2 separate regions of the Homo sapiens genome follow, and region 1 is linked to region 2. A link means that fine-mapping ties the variant in region 2 to the expression of a gene that starts in the linked region. Tissue or cell type: blood mononuclear cells. Region 2 holds a variant in brackets; the other region holds the start of a gene. All regions are shown on one strand. Distances are between the middles of the regions.

What was found.
Region 1: LINC01187 starts here. The variant in region 2 is fine-mapped to the expression of LINC01187 in blood mononuclear cells (TOPMed, PIP above 0.99). The same link has a PIP of 0.9 or more in T cells.

The regions. Positions count from the first base shown.
Region 1 is chr5:170,196,855-170,201,254 of GRCh38, forward strand. LINC01187 (long intergenic non-protein coding RNA 1187) reads right to left here and starts at 2,287. Exons shown (of 5, transcript NR_108022.1): 1 at 1,888-2,287; 2 at 898-975.
Region 2 is chr5:170,245,952-170,250,351 of GRCh38, forward strand. LCP2 (lymphocyte cytosolic protein 2) reads right to left here. Exons shown (of 21, transcript NM_005565.5): 21 at 282-2,868. The coding sequence ends at 2,746. It overlaps C5orf58 (chromosome 5 open reading frame 58), which reads left to right. Exons shown (of 4, transcript NM_001102609.3): 4 at 11-280. The coding sequence ends at 162. Among named protein-coding and RNA genes, the nearest start is that of C5orf58, 15 kb to the left of the region's middle. The variant AT/A (reference allele first, on the strand shown) is at 2,738.

The sequences.
Region 1 (4,400 bases), 49 kb before region 2:
TGTTCCAACACAGCCTTCCAGTAAGTGGCAATCATCTCTGACTTTGGCAGAAACCAACCTGCTTGAATTTCCTGCCTGCCCACCTAAGCCACTGCTTCCCCAACTTTAGAAGCTCATACGCTGTGAAGGTGGGTCTTTTATGTAAGAGTGAAAAACATCTCAAACCAACTTGTTTTCAAACGAAAATTTTTTCCTACCTTTAAAACTGCTATAAAGCAAAAGTTGTCATAAAAATGTTAAAAAGGAAATAAAACAATGTGATTAAATCCAAATCAGAAACTATTACCTTCTAAAGCCCTAGGAGTAAGGCTTGATCTGCCTGACTTTAAAAAACAGAGATGAGAAGATAGTTCGACCACAACAGCACCAAACTGAGACTTTGTCCCTAACATAATCGGAAAGACCGAAAAAGAGTTGGGAGGACATTGTGTTGCTCCGTGATACAGTGTTATTTAAAGTCGTGTCCAGGTGTCAGCTAAAATCGACTCTCCTTTGTCCAACATTTTCACGGACACTGATCCAAACCAATTTAGCACAGGTTTCCAGGGACCTCTGGGTAATAATGCCCCTCAGCTGCCCTACAGATGACAAGATTCTGGACAGAAACCCAGCTCCCCTAACCCACAGCCCTGGCCCAAGGACAAGATATGGGCATTCCTTTGGTGTTTCAAATAAAAACACAGTGAAATCAATATGTTCTCCAAGACCGGCTGGTGGAGGCTGTTCACCTGCGGAGAAGGGGCCTGGTCATCCGGTTCCTGAATGCCTTTGCCACACTAGAATGTTTTATGGTTCTAAAGTTCCCACCTTAGAAAATCACCCACTAAGAAGCCAAGCTCTGAAAACGTTTTGATTTTTCTAGAGGGAAATGGAAAGTGAAAAATGGAATTCAATTACCTTGAAAAGGGGCAATTTCACTCACAACTGTTACACTTAAAAGCTCCATATGAAACAGGCATTCAAATAAGTCTCAGCCTAAGTTAAAAGAAAAAGGGGAAAAAGAAAATCATGTATTAATCCTCTTCCCTCTACTCCTTCTGACCTAGTGAGTCTTCCTTAGACTCAAAAAAGATAGATGGACTTGAAACACGATTAAATAAGCATGTTAGGACTTTAATAATCCAAGCCGCAGGAGTTTCTATTAAAAGTTGGGTATTTAGAAGAACCATTTGGTTAACCAGTCTAGTGACACAGAAACCACCATGTGAGGGAGGCTCTTCTGAGCAGAGCTGAAGCAGGGACTCCCTGCTTTTCTCTCAGAGATTTGGGGGTAAAGTTACCATCAGACCCTTCAGTTCAGCTGAAAACTCTGAGATGCCCAATACACTCCCATTTTCTACTTCAAGGAAACTTCACTAAAACAGAGGAAAAGATAATAGCCTTGATTGAAATAGAAAGGCGTTACAGAAACTGACACCAAACAACACAACAGACATCATCATCCCATCATAACCATGACGCGCTCATTCTTTCTTTACATCTTCATTCCTGCTAGGTCAAGGCAAGCCGTAGAAGTGGTTTTGTGACCACCATGATGGTTTCCCAAGGCAAATTTAGACAGCATATTTTCTCCTACCACAAAAAACTCCAGCCAGACTCTCCAGTGGTTGAATTCCTATTCCTCAAGTTACCAGCTGTGGAACTCTGTGCCTCAGTTTCCCCATCTGTAAAATGGAGATAACAGTAGCATCTACCTCATAAGATTGCTGTAAATATTAAATGAGATAGTGCTTAGCACAATGCATGGCACATAGCAAGCACTTGGTGGCCGATCAATGGCAAATACGAACACTGGCTCGAGCTTACTGCCATGGTTTATCTTAGCAGCTCCTGACTTGCCTGTTGAGAAAAAATGCTCCTAAACTCAGAAGTATTCAGAAAACCTACAGCAAGGTGGTGAGAGACTAGACTCTTCAAACCTCTGAGGTGCTTTTCTGTCCTCATTCCAGTTTTCTGCCCATCACATTGGCCAAAGAGCTCTAGCCAGAGTTGAAGCCAGTGCTGATCACTTTCCTGACAACCTGGCTGGCAGAGATGGGACCGTATGTAGCACAGGGAAGAGGTGTGTTTTCAGACAGCTTCCTCTCGGAAATCCATTTTGACTGTAGATCCAAAGAAAATCCTTCCAGGCTTCTTGTGCACACGCCAAAACCTGCACACATGTATGCATTTCTTCCTCTCTGTGCATCTCTCCTGCACATCTGGGCAAAAACCAATCTCTGCAGGTAGCATCTTGTGCATATAGCTGTCCGGCCCTATGATAAAATGCATTGTTTCTCTCTGAGTGAAGCTTAATGCACCTCAGCCTGGGGATTTATACTAAGCAATAAAATCCACAGGATAGAGAAATGCAAATAGATTGTAGAATATAATATTATCATTGTCAACATAAAAGACTTTTATTTACTGCCCCCCAAAAGAAAATACACCATAGTGTCGTTTGTTTCAGGGAATGCAAAAAAGGTTTCAACAACTAACAGGGCATGTTTCTGAGCAAAATATACCCCGTATATAATGTTGGAACACATATTGTCAGTGGCCACTCGTGTGTCTGTGTTCTTGCAAACAAACCTGTGGAATTGAGTCATGGAAGGTCACTTCCAGCCACCTCTCTGAGCCACACGGCACCTACCTGGCTCTGTTCACAAACAAACCAGACAATATAGACCTATTTGAAGGGAGAGACCCTCTGAGGCAGGCCACACTCCATCAGCACATCTTAGAATGAGGCATTTGAGTAGTTGCTGACTTGGCTTACTGGGGAATGGAGTTGTGGTGGAGGTTGATTAAACAGATGGTCCATGTTGCTTTGGGCAAAGGGAAAAGTTAAAGAGAAGATGTAGCAGAGCACATGGGAGGTGACAACTCCATCTTTTCTCTAGAAGATATCCCTACAACTCCCCCTTAATGCTCAAGGTCATTCCACCAATGCTTTTGTTGCACAGGGTATTGACAACTTACAAGACCAATTATTTTCACTGATTTGTTTGAATGATAAGTCTGTTGTTTTGTGTAGGGGTTTGGCTATGATATCAGACCCAGTCACAGCAATTGTTTCATTTCTGTCTACAAGGGCAAGATCTAAGTTTATAAGGCTTTAAACAGCCATAATTACCTGAATGACATTTTATGTGAAAAATATATTCTAACTGGTTCTCCCAATAGCCCTAGGAAATATACCCTAGGTGTTATTACGGCCAATTTACAGGTGAGAAAACCGAGACTTCAGAGAGGTGAAGCACATTATCCATGGCCACCCAGCCTGTAGGAGGGTGGCTCCAGAGGCCTCAGTCCTGAGCCCGAGCCTGTCCTGCTTAAGCTTACATCAGGAAAGCCCTTACGTGGCCTGTGCTGGGTGCTCTGTCATGGGGACATCTCACAGGTTTGGTAGGTTTTATCACTCCTATTTTACAGGTGAGGAAACTGATACTTAAAAGAGGAAAAGTGTCTGCCCAAGTCACACAGATGTATATAGCTTGACTGGATTCGAACCTAAGTCCTGACTCCACCGGCTGTGTGGTATAAAAGGAGAGCTTGAAGGTGTCATCATTATCCCCTTTACAGGCCACCACAACCCCTATCACTGAGGGAGTTTTATAAGTTTCAGCAACCACATCAGTAATCTCATTTTGCATCCACAAATTTCTATTTTGTCCTTGCAGCTCACTTGGACAGGGAATGTCCCGCATGTTTGAAAAGATGGTTCAGAAAGGAGCCTTTGGCAATCCCCAGGGTTTCTGCACCCAAGATGGACTGGAGGGATCATGACAACCAGTTGCAATCAAAGAAAAGAGGAAACCATATCCGAGAGTGGAAGCTGTTTTCTTGCTTTCAGGGATCAAATGTCATGACCCCCCAACTCAGTCCTAATGCATCCTCCACAGACATACTCTTGAGCTCTCACAATCCACCCTTCAAGTCATGATGGGGCTCAAGACCTTCACTGGGCTTCATTATCACAGAGCAAACAGGGTGAAGAGGACTCATTTATTGAAGCAACAGATATTGGTGACCAATGAAATTGATGACCACCATGACCTAGGCTGGGCATTCAGTGGAGAGTAACACAGGCAACTTCCCTGACATCTGGGGCTTACAGATAATGGAGGAAACACAAAAGAATCAGATAAACAGATAGGCCAGACCAGAGAGTGCTAAGCAGACATTAAAACAAGGAAGTCAACATCAAATGCAGAGCCCAGAGAAGCCTTCCTTGGAGAGGTGACACTGAGCTGAGGCCCGACTTGCCCTGGAAAGACCTTGGGACACATTCCAGGAGGGAGGGTGCTGAGCCCTGGAGAGCTCTGTTTTGGGCAGTCACTCTCATCAGAGTTTCCATGATGACACAAAGGTCACATGGATGCCCACAGTCTAATTTCAATCAACAATGAATCATGGCC
Region 2 (4,400 bases):
TTTTGCACAGAGCTCTCCCAGTTATTGCTTTGTGACCTTATCCTACATTTTAATCATCCCATCAAGACTGAGAACTTAGCAGAAGCAGAAAGAAACAACCCCCTCTTTGAAGAGTCTAAAATATCAGATGTATCCCTTGTTTCTAACAGTTTTTCTATCTGATTTCTTATTTGTTATGAGTTTCTGTTTTATTGTTGAACTAACAAATATTTGGGAGAGTTGAGTTTACTAATTTGTATATATATAATTTAAAACAAAATAAAAATAATGTAAACAAGCAGTTCATGTTCTTGAAGGCTGTTTAATGTTTTGAAGAATGGCTTAACTTACGTCACTAATGGCAAGTGTATGACATAGGAAATTGGCCATGGGTCACTGCTTATCCTTTAGCTTATGCTTGAATTTGGCTCAGGTTGAAAGAGAGCTACTAAATTATTAATTGATGGAATGAGTTTTTATTAATCAGAACTCTCCTGGTAGTGAACGCCAAGCACAACTCAACCAGCTGAAGCATTTATTGAGTCATGTGACTTGGAAGCACATAGTTGGAATAGATTTCAGGGATCCCACTAATTTGTCCATACTTTTACTGTGTTTTTGTGTGTTGGCCTCGTTGTCTTCTATTGTAGACTGGTTCTTCCAGATAATTGGTAAATGGGAGTAGTTGCAGGGCAGCAGGCAGCTCCAAGTGTACAGCATTGCCTTTGGGGACCCCAGATAAAAGAGAGATCTTGTCTCAGGCTTCATGTTTAACATTCCAGAGAGTGACCCTGATTGACCCAGCTTTAGTAAGATGTTTATCACTGAGCAGGGTTCTGAGCAACTGTGACTGATGCACCTGGGGTCATATAGAAGGTCTGTGGCCAAAAGAGGCAAGGCCCAGCCAAAAGGAGTTGTCGGTGCTTGAACAGAGAGAGAATGCTAGTCATGAAAACATTAGCTTCCCAACATTGATTTCAGTCATAGCCATGGAACAGAACATCTTAATCCTGATGGCACTTTCCACTAATAGACTTAAAATGAGCTTTGGTTTGTTTTATAAACATGATTCGCTACCAAATAGTTGCTTTGAAATCTATCAGGTCCTTCATTTTAGATATTTTTGAATTGTAAAGATAGAATACGGCAAAGCAAGACAAGTGGAGCTTACTCGATACTAGAACCTATGGTGTATGCTATCCTTACTACCTTGTACCTAGCTCACTTGTTTAACACAGAAGAGCCACTAAGTAAATACTTGCTGAATAGCCCGTTGTGTAGACGTGTAAATGAATGCAGGGTTTTCAGCCTTAAACTCCCAAGTTTTGGACCCTAAACTGAGAACTTCTGGTTGTTAAGGATGAGATTTTGTGAAACACCATTTTTATCATCAGTTAAAAGTCTCTACCTTCTGCATACTCCTTATTTTAACATATCATCAGTTTTAAAATGGTGACTTCTTAGATTCCTTCCAATACCCCTTTTATTAGCTCATGAAAATGAAGCTGCAAGATACTCTTTTCCATTTCGAAAACTTGTAGATTAAGCAGAGACGCCAAAAATTGTTGCTAATAAAAGTTGTGCAATAACAACCAAGGTCCCAAAGGGAAAAACTTGAAGAACAACTGATTGTCACTATTTGGCTGAATACCAGTTTTTTAATCTGGCTGAATGCCTATATTTTTTGTTAAGTGATATTTGTAAACTGGAGGAAAGAGTTTAATTACCTCAAAGCACTTATACAGCCTGTTTGGGAAGGATGAGGAGAAGGGACTTTATGGCAGAGCTGTCAGGGGGATAACAAGAGACAGAAGAGCCATATCTAATAGGAAAGTCTGATCACATTTAATCTAAAGTGTTGCTCCCTCGTCTTCCCAGGAAGCCTTTGGTAAAATCTATATCCCTGGACAATGCTTTTGGGGTTGGGAGAAGGTTGGTGGGGGGCTGTGATGGTTGGTGTGGGTGTGGAGATGTGAAGAAATGCCAACTTAACCCCAGATGTGTTCATTAAACCTAGACCCACGATACACCAAAGTCTCATCCCTAAATTTAAAATGTTTTCTTTTGGTATTTGTAGTTTAAATTTTCTTTAAGACAAAAATATAACAGTATGGACTAAAAGTCAATAAAGTTGTTTTAGGAAACCAAAAAAGTAAAGCAAAAGACTATTTTAATCCCAGAAGTTATCTCAACATGCATTTGTCTTTTCATAAAAAAATTACGTAAAAATGCCCCCAGGAAAAAATACTAAATAAGAGTGAAATTATATTTTTGAAGCCTCTTAAATTATTGCTGCTGAGAAAACGAGGTTTAGTGATTTTCAAATTACATGTATAAAACTAATGAATGCCTCTGACTGACAGAGGTTTGGCTGTAAAAAACAAATCAGTTTTATGTGACACCAATAACTATTACTGTTTCAGTGTTTTAAAACTTGCCCCAAATTGTTTCTGTAGCTGTGTAAACTACTGTATTTTGAAATGGGCATTAAATAATCTTTTAAAAAATGAATTATTACAGTGCACTACTAGACTTCAAGTGTGAACATGACTCATGCACTTTACAAACATTGAAGAAGAATAAATAAATTATGGGATAGTTGACAGTCTTCATTTCAAACACTGTTTTTAAAGGAAAGGATAAAACCCTTGTGTTCATGGGGAGGGGTTCAGTTCAGTCCTAAGTGTTTGTCCATTGACCAAGGCTGATTGATCTCGTGTTGGCAACAGAGGCAGGAGGACGGTTCATTTGCTCGGCT[AT/A]AACTTGCTATGGGTACCCTGCAGCATGCGTTAATGTGCACTGGTATCTGGAACCTCGGTTTTTCCCATCAATGAGCAGAAGTGGCATTTTCCTGAAGTAGTCAATAATATCTGACACAGACAGAAAGTCCTGAAAGAGTCAAGATAGGGAGATGAGTCAACATTGGAATGAAAAGCAGGAACTTCACTTTCAGTTTTTTTATCTGCATAATATATGCTGCCTCTTCAAGTGATGAGGATTGTGGGGGGAAAAAATGTAAATGTGGCAATTAGTTTAATGATTTCTGCTATAGAACTTTGAAAAAATTCCTCATAAACATCCAACAAACCATAGATAAAGATAAAATATGGGCCGGGTGCAGTAATTCACCCCTGTAATCCCAGCACTTTGGGAGGCTAAGGCCGGTGGATCACCTGAGGTCAGGAGTTTGAGACCAGCTTGACCAACATGGTGAAACCCTGTCTCTACTAGAAAATAGAAAAATATTAGCTGGGCGTGCTGGTGTGCGCCTGTAATCCCAGCTGCTTGGGAGGCTGAGGCAGGAGAATTGCTTGAACCTGGGAGGCAGAGGTTGCAGTGAGCCGAGATTGCGCCATTGCCGCACTCCAGCCTGGGTAACAAGAAGGAAACTCCATCTCAAAAAAAAATAGATAAAATATGTGCATGCGTGTGTATATATATATATATATATCTACATATCTATATATATATATATGTAATTTGAAATGCATATATTTTTAACTTCATATGAAGGGGTCATTTAAATAGTCACTATTACAATATTCTTGCCTCGGGTTGCTCTGTTTTTGGTTTTGGTTTTGGTTTCTGCATCTCTATTTCACCCCCAGTCATTAATAGTGTTAGGAAACATAAGGACTCAGGAGGTCAGACACGGTTCATGGTGTCTAGAGGTGGGATCTGCAGCATGGCACAGGAGTTCCTTCATGATCTCTCTGCTGTGTCCTCACTGCCACCTTCACACTCATAAAGGCTCAGCAACCAATATTTGCAGCCATAGCCTGGATCGCCCCAGCCTTGATTGCTTGCTAGAGAGGGAAAAGCCTAACTCATTTTTCTAGATGTGGGTCACAACTCACCTAGGAACCCTAACAGGATAATGCACTTCCTTTAAGACTAATCTGCTAGGTGCCTCCCTCCATGGGAGCTGCAATGAGTGGTTGGTCTGCACTTGTGTGTTTCCACACTGGACCAAGATAAATCTTGAAGGGCAAATACCTCTGCTCCTATAGGGTCTGTGCAGCTCTATCCACTGCCAACCAGCGATTCAAACATTTGATCACAAGCATGCATTTTTTTTCTATTCATTAACATTATCATAACAGAAGTATGTGAAGCAGAAGTTATGGGTAAGCTGTTTCTCATTCTGGACATGTTTGATTCAGCTGGTCCTCCTCTTGGAACTTTGAACTTAGAGTATGTTTGGGGCGTTACCTTCAGTTGTTAGTTTCCTTTGCGAAAAACTAGCCCTGAGGGTTTCTTTCCATCCGTTCTGATTAGCACTCAAAAAGTGACTGGCATGAGAATCTAAACCTTGGCCTAACAGAGAATTTCTTTGGCGATCTGGCCATCCTCACAGAGCCAAACCTCCATTTTGTTAAGAAATGAGCCAAGTATTTGAATAATCACCCCAGCAAATATTC